Regions from separate parts of the Homo sapiens genome. Here all the other regions are linked to region 1. The links come from fine-mapping of genetic effects on gene expression. A gene starts in region 1. Each other region holds a variant in brackets. All regions are shown on one strand. Distances are from middle to middle.

Region 1 (4,114 bases):
TCCACACGGAAGCCCAGAGTCCACACGGAAGCCCACAGTCCAGTCCACATGGAAGCCCAGAGTCCACACGGAAGCCCACAGTCCACACGGAAGCCCACAGTCCACATGGAAGCCCACAGTCCAGTCCACACGGAAGCCCAGAGTCCACACGGAAGCCCACAGTACACACGGAAGCCCACAGTCCACACGGAAGTCCACAGTCAAGATCAACCTTCCAAGAACATGTATAGGACACTTACTTCTCTTGGAGGAGCTCGATCCAAAATACGGGGGCAGAGGCACAGCTCTGACTGACAGCTCCCTTGCTGTGGGACCACCACCTGGTCGTTTGGATATTGTTAGTTAGGACCTAAAGTAGTAAGGCCTTCCCAGGGCTGTCGGGAGAGAAGCAGGAGCTCCGTGCATGTTCTCTGCCACAGCGTGCCCTTAGGTTTCACAGGGGTGCCCTCAACTCACAGGAGAGGCAGGGAAACCTCGGGAATAGCAGGAATGCCAATGCCCTCCCCCCACCCTCAGCCTTGGAGAAGGAATGTGAATGTGCCAGGCGTCTTGTCTTCTCCAAGCACATATTGATCATATTGATCTACTCTGTGGGACTCTTAGGGAACCTCATCCAAACGCCAGCCTTTTGCCGGTAATGCTGTGAATGTAAACTGAGGGTCCTTCCTCGGCCCGGCTCACTTTCCTCTTCTGCTGCTCTTCTCGGGAACTGAGGTGGCGTTTTACCACGGACCTGCTCAAAGGCCCGATCCACTGAGAGGACTCTCAAGTCTACTACTCCAGGCTTGGCTTGGAATGAGAAAACCGTTTTGTGACTGGTTCTCCCACACTGTGAACAACAAAATCAACGGCAGCAGCAAGTATTTACATCCCTAGGGTGCCTGCATGGTTTCCCGGCCAGTCTCACTGACATCTCAATAAGCATCAGTACAACAACGTACTGCCAAGTTACCTGTGACACCCTTTCCACCGCAGCCCTGCCAGTCCCAATCAGCAGTGGATTTTCTTTGAACAACTGTAGAAACTGAGGCATGGTGCAATAACCTCAAAGAGTGAATTAGTAAGTTAATAAGCTGTTGTTTCCCAAAAACCTGGAGTTCCTTGCATAAGAAGTTATATCAATGAGTGATGTGTGATTCTTGATTAAGTTTTAAAGAGAAGACACCATCCAATCAATGCGCAGGTAGGTGGTGAGGCCTCAAGCCATAAAGATGACCTATTCTTCAAAAGGAAAACAAGCAGCAAAAAAGTCCAGCCGGTTACCCCACGGAGCCAGGAAGCACCCGGACGCCGCAGGCCTCCCGGGCTGTGCAGACAGCTCTCTGGTGCTATGTCCGTGGGATTCTCACCACAGCCGGCAATACACAGACTCAGCCTGGCTTCCCCAACCCACCCCACCACGGCTGCCGTGCCAACAAGCATCCGCTTTACATATGGGATGGAACACACACCCATGCTTTAAAGGAGAAACCTACTACTGGGAACGCAGGCCCAAGCCTCCTCCAAATGTGTGCATGAGCATGAACGTGAAAACGGATAAATGAAGCATCTTCCTCTGTGATCGTCCCTGCACCCCTCAGAGGACAGACCCCAAACTGTCAACTTTCCAGCCACATACGTGTGCGCACTAAATACAGAAGAGCACCAGGTGGAAAGAGCCTGTGCAGAGACAGCCAAACCGAAACCAACAAAGCCTCTGCAGCAGTCAGAAAATAAACACTCACATTCCAAAGCTCGCTGTCTGCTCCTCTCTCCCATCGCTCTGCTCGACTGTGAGAATCTTTCCCGGCTCGTCCAAGACTCAGTCCGGCTTTTGCGCAAATCAGCTCCGAGCTTCTATGACTCAGCAAAGAGCTCGGCTTTTATTTTTCAGATGGAATTTACCACGCTGTGACTACATCCAGGGGGAGGAACCATTTCCCCGAGCTGTTTCCAAGCAGAGCCCTTGAGCCAGGATCGCCCAAGCTCTCCCTGTGCACCTTAAGGCCAAGCACAGAGGCATCCTCTGAGCCCCCAGCCCAGCTCCCTGCAGGGCGCGAACAGACGCTTCTCGGTGGGGAAGGGGCCCGCAGCTCTGCACGGCCGGGCGGCCGAAGGCACAGCCACGCAGGTGAGATCCTGAAGGCAGCTTGGCTCTATTCAGATGCAGAGGCGGCCTGGGCTCCGGGTTGGCCCGGCGGCAGTCTCACGTGAAAACCAGCGAGCGGCAGAGGCCACGGCTGGGCCATCCCTGCCCTCACCGCCCCCTCGGCTTCCTGGCTGCTCCAGGACCGCGTTCTGGCCGGCTTTCCCTCCTGCTTGGAGAACCCCCTTCAAGATTGCAGAGTGAGCGGGTCAATAATAGGAACGAACTTCCACTCTGAGGGTATCTATTTTAAATGTCAGGTGATAGAAGGGATTTGCACACACTCAACACTGAGGACTGAAAATGCAGACGGGAACCAGACACAGGAGACCAGCAGCATTCCTGTGTGAAGGGCAAGCACGAGAGCTCACCTGGCCCGCCAATCCCACACGCAGTCCATAATCACCGTCCGGAAAAGCCGTGTGACAGCCGCTCTGTAGAAAACGCAGGGTCTGACAGGGTTTCCAAGCAGGAGGCCGCTTAGAGTCCATCTGGGTCCGATTCCATCAAGGCAGCCTTGAGGGCTGCCGGTGCGGGTGGCCTGAAGCTCCTGCCCTGCCCTGTCTCCGGCCACCAGGGCCTGCGCTGAGACTGCATCGGAGCCTGGACCCCAGAGCAGGCCTGCACGCCCAGGTTCTGGGGGTCAGCCTGGGAGGACCCTACATCCCCCCTGCTCCCAGCCCGCTCTGCCTCAGTTCCCTCGCCTGCACCCTGCCTGCCCCCCACAACCTGCCTCTTCTAGTCAAGGCCAAATGTCACTTCACCCCAAAGCTGAGACCGGCAGGCATCACCCCGAGAGGAGCCCACAGAGTGAACGCCGATGATAACATGTCAGAGGATGGCACAGGGCAGGCCAGGACTTCGGGTTACTTCTGCTGTCTGTCTAGATCTGGCCACCCTCATAAGTTAGAGCAAGCAAAAAATTGTCCTGATTAAAACCATGGCCACACGTCTGGCCAAACGTCCAGGGTGATGCAACAACCCTCCAAGGGTCACATGTCCTGACTCGTGTGACGGAGCCGCCCGCTGTCCCTGGTTACCAACCATCGCTGCCTCTATGTCACAGGGGAGGAGGCTGGAGCGCCAAGAGGCCATGCGGCTGCCCCACAATCACATCCCTGTCAGGTCCCGGAGCTGGATTCAGACCCGGAACGGTGGGTCGGAGATCCAGACCCCTCCCGTGTTGCCCTGAAGCAAAGAGGGTTCCCATGCCGGCGGCTCGGGGTCCACGCCCGACCCCGAGGGTGGCTCCTCCTCAGTCGGAGGCAGGCCACGGGGACAACCTTCCTGACGAGGGCAGTGCCCCCTCAGCCCAGCTGTCCTCCTGCTGGAATTGATCCTGGGGAAACAACACAAGGATGGTGTGTGCACAGATTTGACTTTAGTCCAAATACTTTATAGCACCTACCCCGTGCCAGGCGCTGTTGTAAGCCTTTAAATATAACTCACTCAGGGATGCTTACGGCAGTGTTGTCCATAATATAACAGGGAATAATTGGAAACATCCTAGACGTCCAACAGAGGAGTGATTTAACAAGCGATGGGAAACGCACATACGTCCAAATACAATGGGGCCATTTAAAAATGTCCCCAGTCCAAGCTTAACAGAAAGACGTAAACAACCTATTGTTTAAGTTTTTTAAAGTCAGCCATAAAAAAGCTGGTATCGTATGCTCACATTTCTGTTTAAAAAAGTGTGTATAGTATGATCACATTATTTGTTTTTAAAAACGCGTGCCTGTGTGTGTTGCACTCAAGAAAAACAAAGCCTGAAAGCGTAGATACCAAGCTCTAAAGTGGCCATAGCTCCAGGTGATAGGATCTCAGGTGACTTGATATTTTGTTTTGTATCTTTCTGAATTGTATGTATTTTTTTTGTAGAATTGGAAACAATATTTTTAGAATCAGAAAAAACATCTACTTTCATTTCCAAACAGATGCACATGCGTGTATGTGCTTTTGATTCCTGCAGTAAACGTGCCCCTTGCA
Region 2 (4,114 bases), 25 kb after region 1:
GCTTCCCAACCAGGAAAAGCCTTTTGTGTTTTTGAGAGAGGATCTTGCTCTGTTGCCCAGGCTGGAGTGCAGTGGTGTGATCTCAGCTCACTGCAACCTCTGTCTCCTGGGCTCAAGTAGTCCTCCCACCTCAATCTCCCGAGTAGCTGGAACCTCAAGAACGTGCCACCATAACTCGCTAATTTTTGTTTTTTTTTTTTTGAGACATGGGGTCTTGCCATGATGCCCAGGCTGGTCTCGAACTCTTAGATTCAAGCAATCCACCCACCCTGGGCTCCCAAAGGAAAAGCCTTTTATAGGACCAGCCAAGTAAAGCTGATACAAAACAGCTCTTCAAGCACCTGGTTTTCTTAACTATTTCTAATACCCTAATGATCCAGGGTGAGTTACAATGGCAGAGAGCTCTAAAACCAGAGGAAAGGAACAGACGGGCTCTCCAAAGCTGCTCCAGGATGCTATGGCCTGGCTATCAGAGGACACAGGCTCCAGCCCTCTCCCCACGCAGTCCCTGGTTCCTGAGAGCCTGCACTCATCCCTGCAGCCAGGATGGGGAGGGAGGAACTCCAGGTGATCCAGGGTGGCCGCACCATGAAGAGGAGTGAAGATGAAAAGAGAAACACAGCAGGCGCCGTGGCTCACGCCTGGAATCCCAACATTTTGGGAGATCGAGGCAGGCAGATCATTTGAGCCCAGGAGTTCGAGACCAGCATGGACAAGAGAGAGACCCGTCTCTACAAAAATACAAAAATTAGCCAGGCGTGGTGGTGCAAACCTGTAGTCCCAGCTAATCAGGAGGTTGAAGTGTGAGGATCACTTGAGCCCAGTAGGTGGAGGCTGCAGTGAGCCATGATCATGCCACTGCACTCCAGCCTGGGTGACAGAGACCCTGTGAAAGGAGGAGGAGGAAAGAAGGAAGGAAGGAAGGAAGGAAGGAAGGAAGGAGCGAGCGAGCAAGTGAACTAGCGGGGCACGGTGGCTCACACCTAAAATCCCAGCACTTTGGGAAGCTGAGGCTGGCAGATCACTTGAGGTCAGGATTCAAGACTAGCCTGGCCAATGTGGTGAAACCCCCACTCTATTAAAAATACAAAAATTAGCCAGGTGTGGTGGCACATGCCTGTAATCCCAGCTATTCGGGAGGCTGAGGCACAAGAATCACCTGAACCTGGGAGGTGGAGGGTGCAGTGACCCGAGATGGCACCACTGTACTCCAGCCTGGGCAACAAGAGCAAAACTTTTTCTCAAAGAAAAAAAAAAGAAAAGAAAGAAAAAAGAAAGAAAAGAAAGGATAGAAAGAAAAGAAACACAAGCAGCCATGGAAGAGGCCTGAGGTGGGATCCCAGGCAGAGCAGGTGTCTGCTGGCACAGGCTGGCCACGCGACAGTTCAGGCCAGCTATAACGGACGATGAAATTCTCTTAGCAGCTCACATGCCCACCCAGCCTGGGCCACGGGGCCAGCGTGCTATGTTTCCAGCTTTCCTGACCGTGGTGCTCAATGATGCCACCAGCCGCAGGAAAGGAGTGGGGGTGTCGGCCTTGCTGGCCCAGCCCCAGCCAAGTCTCCCATACTCCCAACACCAGAAGATGCACCTCCTAGGGCGTGGGGACACGCGGCAGAGGGGCCACACTGGCTCCTGGTGTTTACCGCTGTGCCCGTCCGGGGCAGCAGCTCCCAGAACACAGCCCATGCTGCCGGGATCCTGCATACAGCCGCCCTCATCCTCTCACCTCCTCTCAGGGTTCCCC[A/G]CCCTGGCTGTTCCCACTGGCACCTACCACCCACTCCAGCCCACCCGGACCCAGCCAGCTCTCCACTCCCTGAAACATATGCACTCCAGTTTGTCTGATCCACAGGAAAGCCTTAAAATAAACAGGTGATGAATGTTTATAGAAAATGTGGTGTCAATTAGCTGGACATGGTGGCACACACTTGTAGTCCCAGCTACTTGGGAGGCTGAGGCATGAGAGTCGCTTGACCCCAGGAGGCAGAGGTTGCAGTGAGCTGAGATCACACCACTGTACTCCATCCAGCCTGGGTGGCAGCAAGACTCCATCTCAAAAAGAAAGAAAATGTGGTGTGCACATCTGACGAATGCCGCTCAGCCGCGAGACACAGGTGCTTCTGCCATTTGCAGCCTGGATGGACCTTGAGGACACCATGCTAAGTGAAATAAGCCAGGCACAGAAAATCGAGTACTGCATGATTCCAGTTCTATGAGGTGTTGAAAATAGTCAAATCACAACAATAAAGACTGGAAGGGAGGCTTCCAGGGCTAGGAAGTGGGAGCTCTCAACAGAGAAAAGTTTCTGTTAATGTTAAGTGAGAGGAATAACCTCCAGAAATCTGCTATTCTGCGCTGAACCTGCACCAACCACCAAGGGTCATTGACACTTTAAGTGTCGTACACTTAAAATTTAAGAGGATTTATTTCATGTTAAGTGTTCTTATCTACCACGATAAAAAAAAAATGAAAATGAAAAAAAAAAAAAGCTCATCGGGAGTGGTTCACAATTGTAAAGGATTAAAATCAACCCAAAATACTTTATAAGGAACTGATTAAAGAAACAATTGAATAGTAAAAAAATGCTCATGAATATGACATTTTTAAAAAGCAGGATATAAAATGATTATAGCATGATCCAAACTCTGTGTGTGGCTGGGGGAGTCTGCAAACCCATCAGCGGTCAGGAGGTCAGCAGGCAGCCAGCAGATGTATAGATACGGAGCGAGGGGAGGGCCCTGTCTCGGTCAGCTCATCCCCATCACAATATGCCACAGACCAGGCAGCCTAAACAAGACATTTCTCGCAGTTCTGGAGCTGGAAGTCTGAGGCCAAGGAGCCGGCCGGTTTGGTTCCTGGTGAGGGTCCTTCCTGGCTTACAGAGCTGCCTCTGTGCCCTGTGGAGAGAGCCCGATCCCATGTCCCTTCTTGTAAGGGCACCCATCCCATCCTGGGGGCCCACCCTATAACCTCATCTCACCCCGTCAGCTCCCAAAGGGCCCACCCCCCCAATACCATTACATTGGGGGTCAGAGCGCAACCTGTGAACTTGGGGGACACAATTTGGTCCACAGCAGCACCTAATGACTTACAGCAGTCACCTGGGCACGTGTTAGTTATGAGTACTGATTGTCTTCATCCCAGCCTTCTGAAATTTTAGAATTTTTATAAACAAAACAAAGAAGCACGAGCTTGTGAAGGAACCCAAGTGCTTAGTGTCATGGCAAAGACTTGGGGAGCAGTGAGACCTCCACACACAGCGTGACTTGCAGAGGCGCCCCAGCACGTGAGGCGTGGAGGTGGGGGCAACCCAGAGAGGCTGTAAGAGCCAAGTCAATACAGCGGCTGGAGGCCGAGAGAGGAGGCCAGAAATGAAGCTTCCCCCATCTTCAAGACCTTTGCTGGATGCCGCTGTAGGGAATCGGGGGCCAGCCAGATTTTCAGACCTCACTGGTCTGACAGCCCAGCGCTATGGAGGGAGTGGGGGTCGCCTCTCTGGAGTGCACAGATGTGCTGCTGTACTAAGAGACCTCTGCCAGGGAAGCCAGTGAGCCACAGGCAGGTGACATGCAGCAGGAAGTCCTGGCACGTGTAGAGGGCCAGGCCTCTCAGCCTTGCAGGGACCACGCTGTCCAGGGGCCATGGGAGAAAGGGTCTAGCCCTTGGCCTTACTGGGAAACGGTGGGTGGCCTGACTGAGACTGTTCTGCTTGGGGGTTGCAGGTATGGGGGGATGTCAAAACCGGAGGGGGCAAGGCAGGGCAGACGGGGGCCTGGTGTGGGATCCGGGCCCAAGCTGAGGTGACTAAGTTCCTGAATCACAGCTAAGAGACATAGGTCCTGGCTGGGCACGGTGGCTCATGCCCATAATCCCAGCAGTCTGGGAGACCAAGGCAGGAGGATCACTTGAGATCAGGAGTTCAAGACCAGCTTGGGCAATATACCAAGATCTTGTCTCTATTAAAAAAATGTTTAAATATTTTTAAAAATGAGACAGAGGTTCGAATGCTGAGTTTGCAACTCCACACTCCTTAGTTCTGGTGATTTTAGGCGATGTCTGTACCTCCTCCCTTGCTGAACTGCATGCTCCTTGATGTGGCCTGAGCCTGGTTCCC
Region 3 (4,114 bases), 180 kb after region 1:
GGAGGATTGCTTGAGCCTCTTAGCTACCCAGGAGGCTGAGGTGGGAGGATTGCTTGAGCCTCTTAGCTACCCAGGAGGCTGAGGTGGGAGGATTGCTTGAGCCTGGGAGGTCAAAGCTGCAGTGAGCCATGACTGCATTACTGTGCTCCAGCCTGGATGACAGAATGAAACCCTGTCTCAAAAAAAAAAAATCATTTTACTGTCCTAAAAATAGCCTGTGCTCCACCCATTCGTCCCTCCCTGCCCCCAACAACCCCTGGCAACCATTGCTCTTTGTATTGTCTTTATAGTTTTGCCTGGAATGTCATGTAGTTGGCTTCATATAGCCTGTGGCCATTCCAGATTGGCTTCTTTTAATTAGTAATAGACGTTGAAGACTCCTCCAGGTCTTTTCACAGCTTGATGACTCATTGTTTCTATTGTTGAATAGTATCCCACTGTATGACGCACCACGGTTTTTTGATCCATTCACCTTTTGGAGGACACCTTCGTAATTTCGACTTTTGGCAATTGTAAGTGAAGTTGCTATAAACATTCATTTCAGGTTTTTGCATGGACATGTTTCCAACTCATCTGGAATAATTCCTAGGGGTGTGGGTGCTGGATCCTATGGTAAGAGTGTGTTTAGCATTGTAAGAAACTGACAAACTGTCTTTCAAATTGGCTGCACTATTTTACATCCCCACCAGCAATTAATGAGAGTTCCTGTTGCTCTTCATCCTTACTAACATTTGATATTGTCAAATTTAAAGTTTAGCCATTCTAATAGGCATGCAGTGGTATCTCATTGTTGTTTTATTTTATTTTATTTTTTTGAGACAGAGTATTGCTCTGTTTCCCAGGTTGGAGTGCAGTGGCATGATCTTGGCCCACTGCAACCTCCACCTCCGGGGTTCAAGTGATTCTCCTGCCTCAGCCTCCCAAGTAGCTGGGATTACAGGTGGGAGGCCACCACGCACAGCTAATTTTTGTATTTTTAGTGGAGATGGAGTTACACCATGTTGGCCAGGCTGATCTCGAACTCCTGGCCTCAAGTGATCCACCCGCCTTGGCTTCCCAAAGTGCTGGGATTACAGGTGTGAGCCACAGCACCCGGCCTGTTGTTTTGATTTTCAATTACTTAATTATGTATGATGCTGAGTATCTTTTCATATGTTTATTTGCCATGTGTATATCTTCATTTGTGAGGTTCAGATCTGTTGCCCATTTCAAAATTGGGTTGTTTGTGTTCTTACGGTTACATTTTAAGAGTTCTTTGTATATTTTGGATACAATCTTTTATAAGGTATGTGTTTTGCCAGTTCTTTTCCAGTATGTGGCTTATCTTTTCATTCTCTTAACAATGTCTTTCATGGAGCAGAAATATTTAATTTTAATGAAGTCCAACTTATCATATTTTTCTTTTATGGCTTATGCCTTTGGTGTTGTATCTAAAAACTCGTCTCCAAATCAAAAGTCACTAAAATATTCTTCTATGTAATCTTGGGGGAGTTTTATTGTTTTGCATTTCACATACAGGTCTATGATCTATTTTACACTTATTATAGCTGAAAGGCCAAGAAGCAGTCAGGTCTATGATCCATTTTATTTATTTATTTATTTTTGAGACAGAGTCTGGCCCTGTTGCCCAGGCTGGAGAGCAGTGGCATGATCTTGGCTCACTGCAACCTCTGCCACCCAGGCTCAAGCGATTC[A/G]TGTGTCTCAGCCTCCCGAATAGCTGGGATTACAGGTGTGTGCCACCACACCCGGCTAATTTTTGTCTTGTTAGTAGAGATGGGTCTCACCATGTTGCCCAGGCTGGGCTTAAACTCCTGCCCTCAAGAGATCTGCCCACCTCGGCCTTCCAAAGTACTGGGATTACAGGCGTGAGCCATGACGCCCAGCCTAAGAGGTTTTGTTTTTGTTTTTTTTTTTGTTTTAGAAATAATTCACAGGTGGGGATAACTTCATTTCAAAAATAAAAATATCAGCTTTATGATATTCCAAAACATGGTTTTGTTCTCTAGATTATACAAATCAGGCAGCTCTAAGGCAGTTCTGAGCCTAAATATCAGCAGAAGGCACAGAACGGAAGGCATAGACTCTGTTCGAAGTGTCTGGTAATTTCCCTTCACTGGGAGCCTATTTGAATTCAAATTATGCACAATAAGTGTCAAGTCTTCCCCCATTTATCTGAGTAACTTAAAAATCCTGTGCAGTGAAACAAGATCTCTGTACATCAAAGTCCCCTTAACCATGTGAATCTTCTCACGTTCTCATGGGAGGAAGTGCCAAGTTGACTGATAAGATGACTTTCTGCTTGCTCCAGAAAGAAAGGCTCCTCCACTCCCAGAAGACGCAGCGTGGGCCTTTGTCTCTTCCCTTCTCCCGCCACCGGCTCGGATCCGCCTTCTCCCTGGGAAACCATCATGGCACTCAGCACTTTGCTGTCTGCCGAGTGGGTCACCTCCTGAGACGTGCCACTGACAGGGCAGTACACCATTAAGAGGGGTGACTCATTCTCAGGGGTCCGGTACTGAGTCTTCTGTCAATACATTCAAACAAAAGGCGTTATAAAACCAACTGAAAACAAGAAATTCTAGAATGTGCCCTTTCCAACTTGACCCACGCATGCTGGTTCAGGGAGCACTTCAAGTCCTCTGAGCTCTAAAAATAAGCCTCAGTGAGTGTCCATGAGCCTGGGGGTGTAAGACCAAGACCCTGGCTCCTTGGGATCACGGTGGATGGGAGTATAACTGGAGATGCATTGGCCCCAGGCGGCCCACCAGAAGCAGGGTGGACAGATAGCTGGGTGGAGCTGGGGCAGGGCCACCACCCTCCTGGCCAGGCTGGGGCTGGGCACTGGGAATCTAAGTCATGGTATTCCCAGCCCAGCTTTAATTCGAGGACCCCGCGTGCATTTCCAGCCTCTCCGGGTTTGTTTGCTCATCCTTGATAAGTCACAGTTCTTGCTCTGCTGACCTACCTGCCATAAAGAGTTATGAGGCCAAAAGAAAATAAATGAAAGCTCTCTGAACACTGGTGACGTGCTTCCTACCTGTGAAATGCTCTTACTGTGAATCTTTGCAGAGCTGGGAAATCATTTTCTGGGCCCAGCTCTTACTGTCGAAGTACAAACAACCTGAGAAACACTGCAGACCCGCAATCCTGCCAGCTGAGCCCAGGCCTGCAGATACACACCCTGCAGAGCGCAACCCTCCGGCCCTGGGCGCCTCCCAGCCAGGGCGCGGCTGCCCTCTGCTGCCTCCTGCTGGCCGAGTGTGAGCAGCCCCTCAGCGCAGACTTTCCTTCCAGTCTGGCAGGTTTAGCCCCAGCGGGAGGCGGCATCACCCCAGTTCCTACAAACGACCTCGGGAATGGAAAGCGCACCCGGGCCGAGGCCCGCGCTCCTGCCCGTGCTGACCATGTGGACACCCAGGGACTTGGGGCAGGGCGCGGAGGCTGCCTGGATGTGTGGCGCAGGCGCCTGCGTGGAAACACCAAGTCCAGAAACCCTGGCTCTGGCGTGGGCCGCAGCAGGTGTCTGTGTCCCCCCCAGCAGGTGTCCGTCCCTCCCCAGCAGGTGTCTGTCCCTCCTCAGCAGGTGTCTGTCCCTCCCCAGCAGGTGTCTGTGTCCCCCCAGCAGGTGTCCGTCCCTCCCCAGCAGGTGTCCGTCCCTCCCCAGCAGGTGTCCATCCCTCCCCAGCAGGTGTCTGTCCCTCCCCAGCAGGTGTCTGTCCCTCCCCAGCAGGTGTCTGTGTTCCCCCAGCAGGTGTCCGTCCCTCCCCAGCAGGTGTCTGTCCCTCTCCAGCAGGTGTCTGTCCCTCCCCAGCAGGTGTCTGTGTCCCCCCAGCAGGTGTCCGTCCCTCCCCAGCAGGTGTCTGTCCCTCCCCAGCAGGTGTCTGTCCCTCTCCAGCAGGTGTCTGTGTCCCCCCCAGCAGGTGTCCGTCCCTCCCTAGCAGGTGTCTGTCCCTCCCCAGCAGGTGTCTGTCCCTCTCCAGCAGGTGTCTGTCCCTCCCCAGCAGGTATCTGTGTCCCCCCAGCAGGTGTCCGTCCCTCCCCAGCAGGTGTCTGTCCCTCCCCAGCAGGTGTCTGTCCCTCTCCAGCAGGTGTCCGTGTCCCCCCAGCAGGTGTC
Region 4 (4,114 bases), 140 kb before region 1:
CTGCACTCTAGTCTGGGTGACAGAGCGAGACCAAAAATAGGATCCATGGATAGCAGGCAAGAGTGTCCAGGTGTTCGAGGCACAGACGACACTGTGACAGGGAAGAGTCCCCTTAGCCCTGGCTGGGGCCGTGAAAGCATGCTGTTGTCCGTCTCGGGTGAACGCAGACTGTTGTCACGCATTGCATAACGATGCTTCCGTCACTGGCCAATCGCATGGGGGGGTGGTCCCGTAAGATGGTAACACTGGGTTTTGCTGTACGTTTTGTATGTCTAGATAGGGTTGAGCGTTCTGGTGTGTACCCACTCACACGTCCCCTCCGACCTTCAGAGCCCAGCTCCCTCCCTCCCAGGGCCTTGGCTGTGACGTGGGTGACTTCCTATGGATCTGAGGTTCTGTGGTCCTCACAAGTGGGCATCCTCTGGCCTCAGCTGCAGGAGGTGGGGGCCCTTTTAATGCCACCCGAGGCCTGCGACTCCCTGCACTTTTCACTGTGACTTGGCTCATCTGGGTCTGTCATTTGCTCACGCGTTGGTAGTGACCAACGTCACCATCCAAGTTCACGGTCACCATAATGATGCTTTCCCCACACCATGCCAGCGCTGAGCGGCCAGCACCCCCTCCACCCCACCCACGCCCTCCCCCGACCCCTGCGTCCTGGGAAGTGGTCCTGCTGCCTGAAGGAAGTAGTCCTGCCTGCCCATCACACACCAGTAAGGGTGGGTCCTGCCAGGGGCAGCCTCCGTCCACAAGCTTGCCCTGAGGACCTGCTTCTAAGACAGCCCTGGTTCCAGGATTCTCTGGGCAGGGCCCCAGAAGCAGGCCTGGGACAGGTGTGTGTGTGCTGTGATGAGGGGCTGGGAGAACCCGGTATGAGACGGGAAAGGCCCGGCAAGGGAGTGGTTTCCAGCAAAGTCCCGCAGAGAACAGCTTCTGCCTGGTCCTGCAGGCCCCACGGAGCAAGTCCAAGCCATCCACCCAGAGGCAAGGGAGCTGGGCCTTGGCATCCTCGGGCTTGGGTGAGTCACCCGCAGAGATGCGAGCTCCCGGGCAGTCTGGCTGCTGGAGGGCCGGGGCACTTCAATAGCCCAGAGGCCGTCATCCAAAGCCACAGGTGGAGGCCCGATGGGGATGCCCAGACACTCACTTGAGGGGACATGGGCGGAACCTGGACAGCGTCCCCCACGCTCACGTGTGCCTTTCCATCCACAGGAGAATGACTATCTTCAAGACTGCCTCGATGCCATCCAGCAAGACTTCGTGATTTTTAACAGAGAAAAGTGAGTGTGTTGGGGGTGGGTGGGCGTGGTGGCAGAGAGGAGGAAAATGGGGCTAAGGTTAAGGTTTTCTTGGCCACGTGAGCGGGCACCTGTGGGCCTGGGGTGCGTGGCCCTGCTCTCTTTGGGGACTCTGAGCAGCAGCTATGGAGGGGAGCGGCGGGAGGCCCCTGCCAGGCTCTGGCATGTTTGTGCTCCACGCGGGGCCCGTGGCTGGAATCTTCTGGGGAGAGACACATCATTTGCCCAGATGAGGGGTGGTGACTTCCTAGGAGGCCCCATCAGAGCCACGTCAACTCCCCCACCCAGGCACGCCCTCAGTCTCTCAGCAGACCTTTCCTGAATGTCAGGCCCCAGGGGACAGAAAGGGCACAGATGACTGGCAGCAGGCAAGGCAGGCCAGAAATAGCAGCAGCTGCCACGGTGGGGCCCAAGGGAGGATGGATGCTCCCTCTGCCCGCACGGGGCAAGGAGGGCCTCCTGGAGGAGGTGGGTCTGAGCTCTTATGGACAGGACGTGCAGGGCAGCACGTGCAGACGGCTGAGGGCACTGACTGGCACCCTGGGGATCAGATGACCGGGTGAAGAATGAGGCTTAGCCGAGCCTCATTCCCAAGTCACTGACCTATGGCACCTGCACAGTCAGGCCTTTCGGCTTCTGGCTGGAAACACGCCGAGCCTCGCCAGCATGCTCACGTGCCCCCACCCGTCCCCAGGCTCCCTGCCAGTGTATCGGGAGCATGGCCTCTCCAGCAGACACCGAGCCTGTGGCCCACGTTTGGGCATCCACGCCATGGCCTA[C/T]CCCATGAGCCCGTGGGCAGGTCATGGGACCGTGAGGCCAGGGAGGTGGGGGCATAACGCCCTCCATGTGTTCCTGCCACCCCAGGCTGAAGAGGAGCCAGGACCTCCCGAGGGAGCCTCTCCCCGCCCCTGAGTCCAGGGATGCTGCGGAGCCTGTGGAGGACGAGGCGGAACGCTCCGCCCTGCCCATGTGCGGCCCCATTTGCCCCTCGGCCGGGAGCGGCTAGGCCGGGACGCCCGTGGTCCTCACCCCTTGAGCTGCTTTGGAGACTCGGCTGCCAGAGGGAGGGCCATGGGCCGAGGCCTGGCATTCACGTTCCCACCCAGCCTGGCTGGCGGTGCCCACAGTGCCCCGGACACATTTCACACCTCAGGCTCGTGGTGGTGCAGGGGACAAGAGGCTGTGGGTGCAGGGGACACCTGTGGAGGGCATTTCCCGTGGGCCCCCGAGACCCGCCTAGATGGAGGAAGCGCTGCTGGGCGCCCTCTTACCGCTCACGGGGAGCTGGGGCCATGGATGGGACAGGAGTCTTTGTCCCTGCTCAGCCCGGAGGCTGTGCACGGCCCTCGTCACAAGGTGACCCTTGCAGCACAGGCCGCGGGTGCCCCAGGCTCGGCTCAGGTCTTGGAGGTCAAGGGCATGGGTTGGGGTAGTGGGTGGGGAGGTGAATGTTTTCTAGAGATTCAAACTGCTCCAGCAATTTCTGTAGTTTTCACCTCTGAGAATTACAATGTGAGAACCGCTCGATGTTGCATGTTCTGCGTACGTCCTGTGTCTGCCTGGCCGTCAGGCCGGTGCCTGCCGTTTCTGGTTGGCCTGGACTTGGGGCAGCCAGTGGGGTGGGCAGCTCCTCAGGGCAGAGCTCCCGGACCATGGCTTTGGGGTGGGTGCCTGTCTCCGTGGCCCTGGAGCCGTAAGGCTGTGGAAGGCAGAGACGGTCCTGGAGGCAGAGGAGCCCAGGACAGCACCGTGCACCGTGGAGCCACCGCAGTGCCGGGCAGTGCTTGGCCCTCCATAAAGGGACGTATCCCTCTCACTGTGGCTGGGTGGTTCTGTGGTTGGAACTGTAACTAACTGGGTAAACGGCCTGTGTGCTTCTCTCTGGTCTCGCTGGAGGAGGACGGGCTCAGCCCATCAGCCCAGCGCTCCAGACAGGCCTGTGCTGGTTTCCTCTGAGGAAATGGGTGTGGCGGGTCTGTGCCCCTTCCCAGGACAGCGGCCATAGTGGACATGTGCCTAGACCTGTGTCCATGAGCCCCACTGCACCCCTGGCAAACAGGGCCCTCCCGTCCTTGGCTGGGCTGCGAGATGGAGATGACAACGGCCAAAGAACATTTGGGGAAGAACCGGCCATGCCACGAGCAGAGTCAGAAGTCCGAGGGGATAGAATGCAGCTTCCCGTCCCCCACCCACCCCTGTCCTCTGAATCATGGCAGAAACTAGCCTTCCAGCCCTCAGCAGCTCACATGGGGGACACGGCACCCAAATCACCACCAGGAAGGGTGGCCCGGTCTCTGCGAGGGCCCAGAGGCGCCGTGTACTCGGTGGAAGTCTGGCGATGTCAGAGACAGGCTCGGGGCAAGGACAGGTGTGGGGGTTTGAATAAGTGCATTTGGGGAACATGGCAGGGTGGTGCACCTTGTCCTCCTTCGAGACACTGGTGAGGTGTGGGTGCTGTCTGGTTCCCTTGATCGCCCCCCACACTGGGGCAGAGTGGGAGATGCTGGTGTGGGGGACATCAGCTCCCACATCTGGGCCAGAGGGAGCCCCGGGAAGGAAATGCTGAGGGCCCAGGGCCTTCGCCTGGGATCTGCACAGCTTTATAAGCAGCCCAGGGTGAGAGATGGGCCTGTCTGTGGTTCCCAGAGACCACGGCAGGAAATTCTCTGTCACCATCGGTGCATGGGCAGGGGCCAGAGAACCGGTGGCACAAGGTGTCCCTGGCTCTCTGCTCAACAAACAGCGAGTGCCCAGTGACTGCGACCAGGCCCCGCTCTTGGGATGAGGACAACCGTCTGGGAACGTCCACGCACCCT
Region 5 (4,114 bases), 140 kb before region 1:
CATGGGGGCCTCCCCTGCCATCTTCCGGGAGCAGGCTCTTCTCCACTTAGACCCACCAGGGCCCTGGGCAAGCAGCGGCCCCGCTCTGTCTTCCTGACCCCTCGGGAGGCCGGGCCAGGTTGACCAGGGGTGCGTTCTGGGCCTAGAACTCAGCGCCCACCTGCCTACCTGCACAACACCCTTGCGGGTGCCGCCCTACCCTGTTGCGAGCTTTGATCCTCTTGTAGACAAAGTCCGGGAATGTTTTCCGAGGGACGAAGCGGCCCGCCCCCGGGGTGACAAACATCTTCCCGTCCTCCAGCGCCACTCGGCCCTGACTTATGACCACGGCAGGCGCTCCCCGGCACTCCACTCCCTCGAAGATGTTGTACTCCACGTTCTGGGGAGAGAGGCCCGAGGGTCCAGTGCCTCCACGCTGGGGCCCAACAGTCCCATCCCCGTTGAGCCGCTGGAGCACTGTGGCCGCCCAGCGTGGAGCAGGCCCGGTGTGCCTACACTGAGCCCCTAGCAAGATGCTGGAACTGAGGGGTTGGAACTCGGGAGGAATGCCCCCCCTCGGCCTACGGACCTCGTTTCTGAGTCCCGTTTCTCTCGAGGACAAAGGGGACAGGCGTGGGCAGGCAGGGAGGGTCACTTCTCCCTTGGCTAGGCAGGTGCACACGGCACCGCTCTGCCCCAGCCTCCTCCATGGCACAAGGGGACCACAGATGCAGCGGCCACGCAGCGAGGTGACGTGGACAGGGCCCATTTCAGTGTCTGGCCTGGGACAGGCTGTGTGGACGGCCCTGGGATGGCTGAGGCCACTGCTGCTGCCACGTGGGCCTCTGTCCTGCGCCTCTCCTGGGAAGGCTGCCCTGGGGTCCCGGCCCCACAAAGGCCAACCCTGACTTACAGCCGCCTTCTCTTACCAGATTGTGGGTCTTGGCAGAGATGATCTTGGTGGCCTTGGGGTTCCATATGACCAGGTCAGCGTCAGAGCCCACAGCCACTCGCCCCTTCCTTGGGTAAAAATTGAAGATTTTGGCAGCATTTGTACTGGTCACCGCGACGAACTCATTCTCGTCCATCTTCCCAGAGGCCTGGGGAACAAGAAGGCTGAGCTGAGGGCGACGGGTGGGGTTGGGGTGAGGCTTGCGCGAGGACAGACACTGGGCCACCAGGACCCCACAAGGATGGATGCCAGGTCACCAGGCCCCCGTGAGGACAGACGCTGGACCACCAGGCCCCCCACAAGGTTGGACGGCAGGACACGGGGCCCCTGCCAGGTCAGATGCTGGACCGCTGGGACCCCACAAAGACGGATACCAGGCCCCCGTGAAGACGGGCACTAGAGTGCCACCCAGGCAGCCAAGATCAGGACAGGGCTCCAGCCACGGCCCTCGCCATGGCAACACTCAGGGTAAGAACGCCTGAGTAACCCCTGGGGTAAGAACGCTGCACTGGTGAGTCAGGGAGCCCATCTCAGTGATGCCTGCTGGTCTGCCCCTTCCTGGGCGAAGCCTTTCTGCATTCACTTTGTGGGTAAAGCTTCCACGAAGGTTCAGCGAGAGTGGAGCTTCAGTGGCAACACCTGTGTCCCCTGAAGGACGTGACAGTCTCCTTGGGGAGCCCTGGAGGCTGGGAAGGCAGGAGCAGCTGAGGGGAAGAGCTCAGTTGCCCGGGGAGGTGGGGCTGAGGATGCGGGAGGGCGCAGGACAGGGCGGTGTGCGACG[G/A]GTCGTGAGGGCATCGCGGGGGAGCACTAACATCACAGCGTGGAGACCCCATGCTGACCCCTGGGCAAACACAGTGTCCGGGCAACACTAGAGTCTGCTGAGGGGTGGGGGGCTACCAGCTGCCCCTGTTGCTGTTGGAGTCTCATCTGGAGGGGCCAGAACCACGTGTCTGAGGCGCCCTGGGTGGGGAATCCGCCACCCCGGAGCCCGTGTGCTCTGATCTGTTTCACGAGTGTGCACTGGTTAGATGGGCTCCCTTCTGACCAGCCATCACAATCCCGCCCACAGCCGCTCCCCAGACGGCGTGCCCCGGCCAGGCCTGTGCTCACCACACATTTCTCCCAGACCATCGACATGCGCTCCTCAATGCCGTTGGTGCCCTCGGGGATCAGCGCGAAGTTGTCCTTGCCCACAGCCTTCTGGGCAGTGGTGAAGGTGCAGTGGGCGCTGCCTGTCACCTGGAGGTCCCCGCTGGAAACAAGCCAGGGTCAGAGGGTCCTGGCCTTCCTGAGCCGGCAGAGGCCAGGTCAGCTCCAGCCCCCTTGGCCAGCACAGCCGCAGGGGCTAGAGGTCATCTGAGTGGCTCTCGCTGGGCAGAGCTGGTGCCTCTGTGCAGGGGAGCGGGGACTGGTTCCTGCCAGGGGAGCCCCCGCTGGGACCAAAGGGCTCAGACTTCCCCACCCGCCACTGTCCGGGCTGCCCTATGGGAGCCGTGGGAGAGGCCTGGGGTGTCGGGGCCACAGCCTTGGCAGGGTGTGCAGCGGGCGGCCAACCTGGGGCCACCTGGAGAGGCTGCTTACCTGGACAGCAAGCAGGTGAGGTGGTCCGCCGTGGTGGGGTCTGGGTTGACAGGGGGTGATGTGACGAAGGCTGCGGCCTTGGCCCAGTTCTTGCTCCAGTAGTGTGAACCGTCGGTGCCCAGGCTGGCGGTGATGGGCTCCCCAAACACGACCACCCCTGCAGCACGAGGCCCATGAGAGGTGCCCCACCGACCACCTGCACCCCCTGGGGCCCCGAGAACTGCTGCTGCTGACACCCACGACTGCCCCTCACTTTCCTTGCCTGGGACAGCTTGTGCCCAGTCTAGAGTCCCTGGCCCTGGGCAGGAAGTGGGGCAGAGGCCTGGGTCGCGGGCAGACGTGGTTGGCCCTGGGGGTCCTTCTGGGAAAGGGAGTCTGGCCTGCGGACGCCAAGTCCTCTCTCTGCCCACACCCCACCCCAGGACCCCGGGCACTCCAGCGGGGCCAGGGCGTGCCTGTGGGCTGCGAGGCACAGTGAACTGCATGGCGGCTGACTGGCCGGGGGTGCCCTGGCCATGGCCTCACCAGGGTTCCAGCTCACAGCTGAGGCAGCTCCCACCAGTGGGTGGGGGAGAAATGCTCCCAGGTGGGGTGGGGCACCCCCCGAGAAGAGCCTGGCGGGTGGGGTACCCCTGAGAAGGGCCTGGCCTGCTGCCCCGAGGCTGCTTGGTGTCCTGAGTGAGGCCCGGGCCTCACCCCTGCAGACCCCCATTCACCTGCACGCCTCAGAGTCCTTTTCCCAGTTAACTGAGTGGGTTTCAGTTTCAACCCTCGATGCAGGAAACACATAGAAGGGCACCACCCACCACCACCACCACCCCGCCCCCCACCCTGCCCAGGGACCTGCACAGCCCCAGGCAGGCCCAGAAAACGAGGTCTCTCAGGACTCAGTGCGGACAGCAGGAGGAGGGGAAACCAGACCAGATCCAGAGGCCGCCTAGGGGATGCCCCCTCATTTACCCGTCACCTGGGTTCTGTGCCTGGATCCTTGGCCCTCTCCAGCCCCAGTGATTGCTGGGGCTCCATGGACCCTCTGAGCCCAGTAGCCTCTGGGGGACACCACAGTCAAGCCGCTGCCAATCACAGCTCTGGGTGGCACCCCCCCGCCCAGGCCTGAGGCTCTCTGCAGTGCCAGGCTCCAGCTGGCTGGCATTCTGTGGGCAGGTAGCACCCCGGCTCTGGACACAGCAAATAGCAATGTAGGGAGGGCCTCCTTGTTGGAACTGGAATTCTCTCTTGGAGACCCTCCTCATCATTCCATTCTCCCCACACCCACCCCCACTGGAAATGGGATGAGCGTCCCCATGTTTTGCCTCAGGGCCCCTGGTGAGCAGCTGCTGCTCCAGCAAGGCTGGAAACTCAGGTCCAGCCCCTGCCCCGATGCAGGGACTCAGGGTCCAGTGCCCCACCCCGATGCAGGGACTCAGGGTCCAGTGCCCCGCCCCGATGCAGGGACTCAGGGAACCTGCATCTCCCCAGGGCTGCACCCAGGAGGCCGAGACCATGGCCCCTCGGCATCAGAGGCGGGGCTGGGTGCTCACCTCTGCGCTTGGCCTGAGCGATGGCGTCGGCCGCCCCCTTGCTCATCACCTTGGTGACGTA

Direction of the effects. Positions count from the first base shown, and alleles are read on the strand shown. Sizes are in standard deviations (SD) of each study's normalised expression. Not every link is listed here.
For the expression in breast of the gene that starts at base 1,840 in region 1, allele A in region 3 goes with a lower level than allele G (small effect, 0.24 SD a copy in GTEx).

Evidence for each region. PIP is the estimated chance that this variant, and not a neighbour inherited with it, causes the effect.
Region 2: its variant is the best candidate, but not a certain one, in a credible set for the expression of JAKMIP3 in sun-exposed skin (GTEx, PIP 0.83).
Region 3: its variant is the best candidate, but not a certain one, in a credible set for the expression of JAKMIP3 in breast (GTEx, PIP 0.81).
Region 4: its variant is the best candidate, but not a certain one, in a credible set for the expression of JAKMIP3 in whole blood (TOPMed, PIP 0.66).
Region 5: its variant is the best candidate, but not a certain one, in a credible set for the expression of JAKMIP3 in blood mononuclear cells (TOPMed, PIP 0.77).

Annotation. Positions count from the first base shown.
Region 1 is chr10:132,063,672-132,067,785 of GRCh38, reverse strand. JAKMIP3 (Janus kinase and microtubule interacting protein 3) reads right to left here and starts at 1,840. Exons shown (of 24, transcript NM_001323087.2): 1 at 1,725-1,840. RefSeq lists enhancers at 1-41, 2,316-3,063.
Region 2 is chr10:132,039,013-132,043,126 of GRCh38, reverse strand. It overlaps a transcript of JAKMIP3 not described here. Among named protein-coding and RNA genes, the nearest start is that of JAKMIP3, 25 kb to the left of the region's middle. RefSeq lists an enhancer at 3,204-4,041. The variant A/G (reference allele first, on the strand shown) is at 1,748.
Region 3 is chr10:131,884,667-131,888,780 of GRCh38, reverse strand. No RefSeq gene overlaps it. Among named protein-coding and RNA genes, the nearest start is that of PPP2R2D, 14 kb to the left of the region's middle. The variant A/G (reference allele first, on the strand shown) is at 1,695.
Region 4 is chr10:132,206,200-132,210,313 of GRCh38, reverse strand. STK32C (serine/threonine kinase 32C) reads left to right here. Exons shown (of 12, transcript NM_173575.4): 11 at 1,213-1,280; 12 at 2,163-2,822. The coding sequence ends at 2,304. Among named protein-coding and RNA genes, the nearest start is that of DPYSL4, 21 kb to the right of the region's middle. The variant C/T (reference allele first, on the strand shown) is at 2,078.
Region 5 is chr10:132,198,911-132,203,024 of GRCh38, reverse strand. DPYSL4 (dihydropyrimidinase like 4) reads right to left here. Exons shown (of 14, transcript NM_006426.3): 8 at 4,054-4,114; 9 at 2,513-2,669; 10 at 2,042-2,183; 11 at 909-1,079; 12 at 200-379. Among named protein-coding and RNA genes, the nearest start is that of DPYSL4, 14 kb to the right of the region's middle. The variant G/A (reference allele first, on the strand shown) is at 1,713.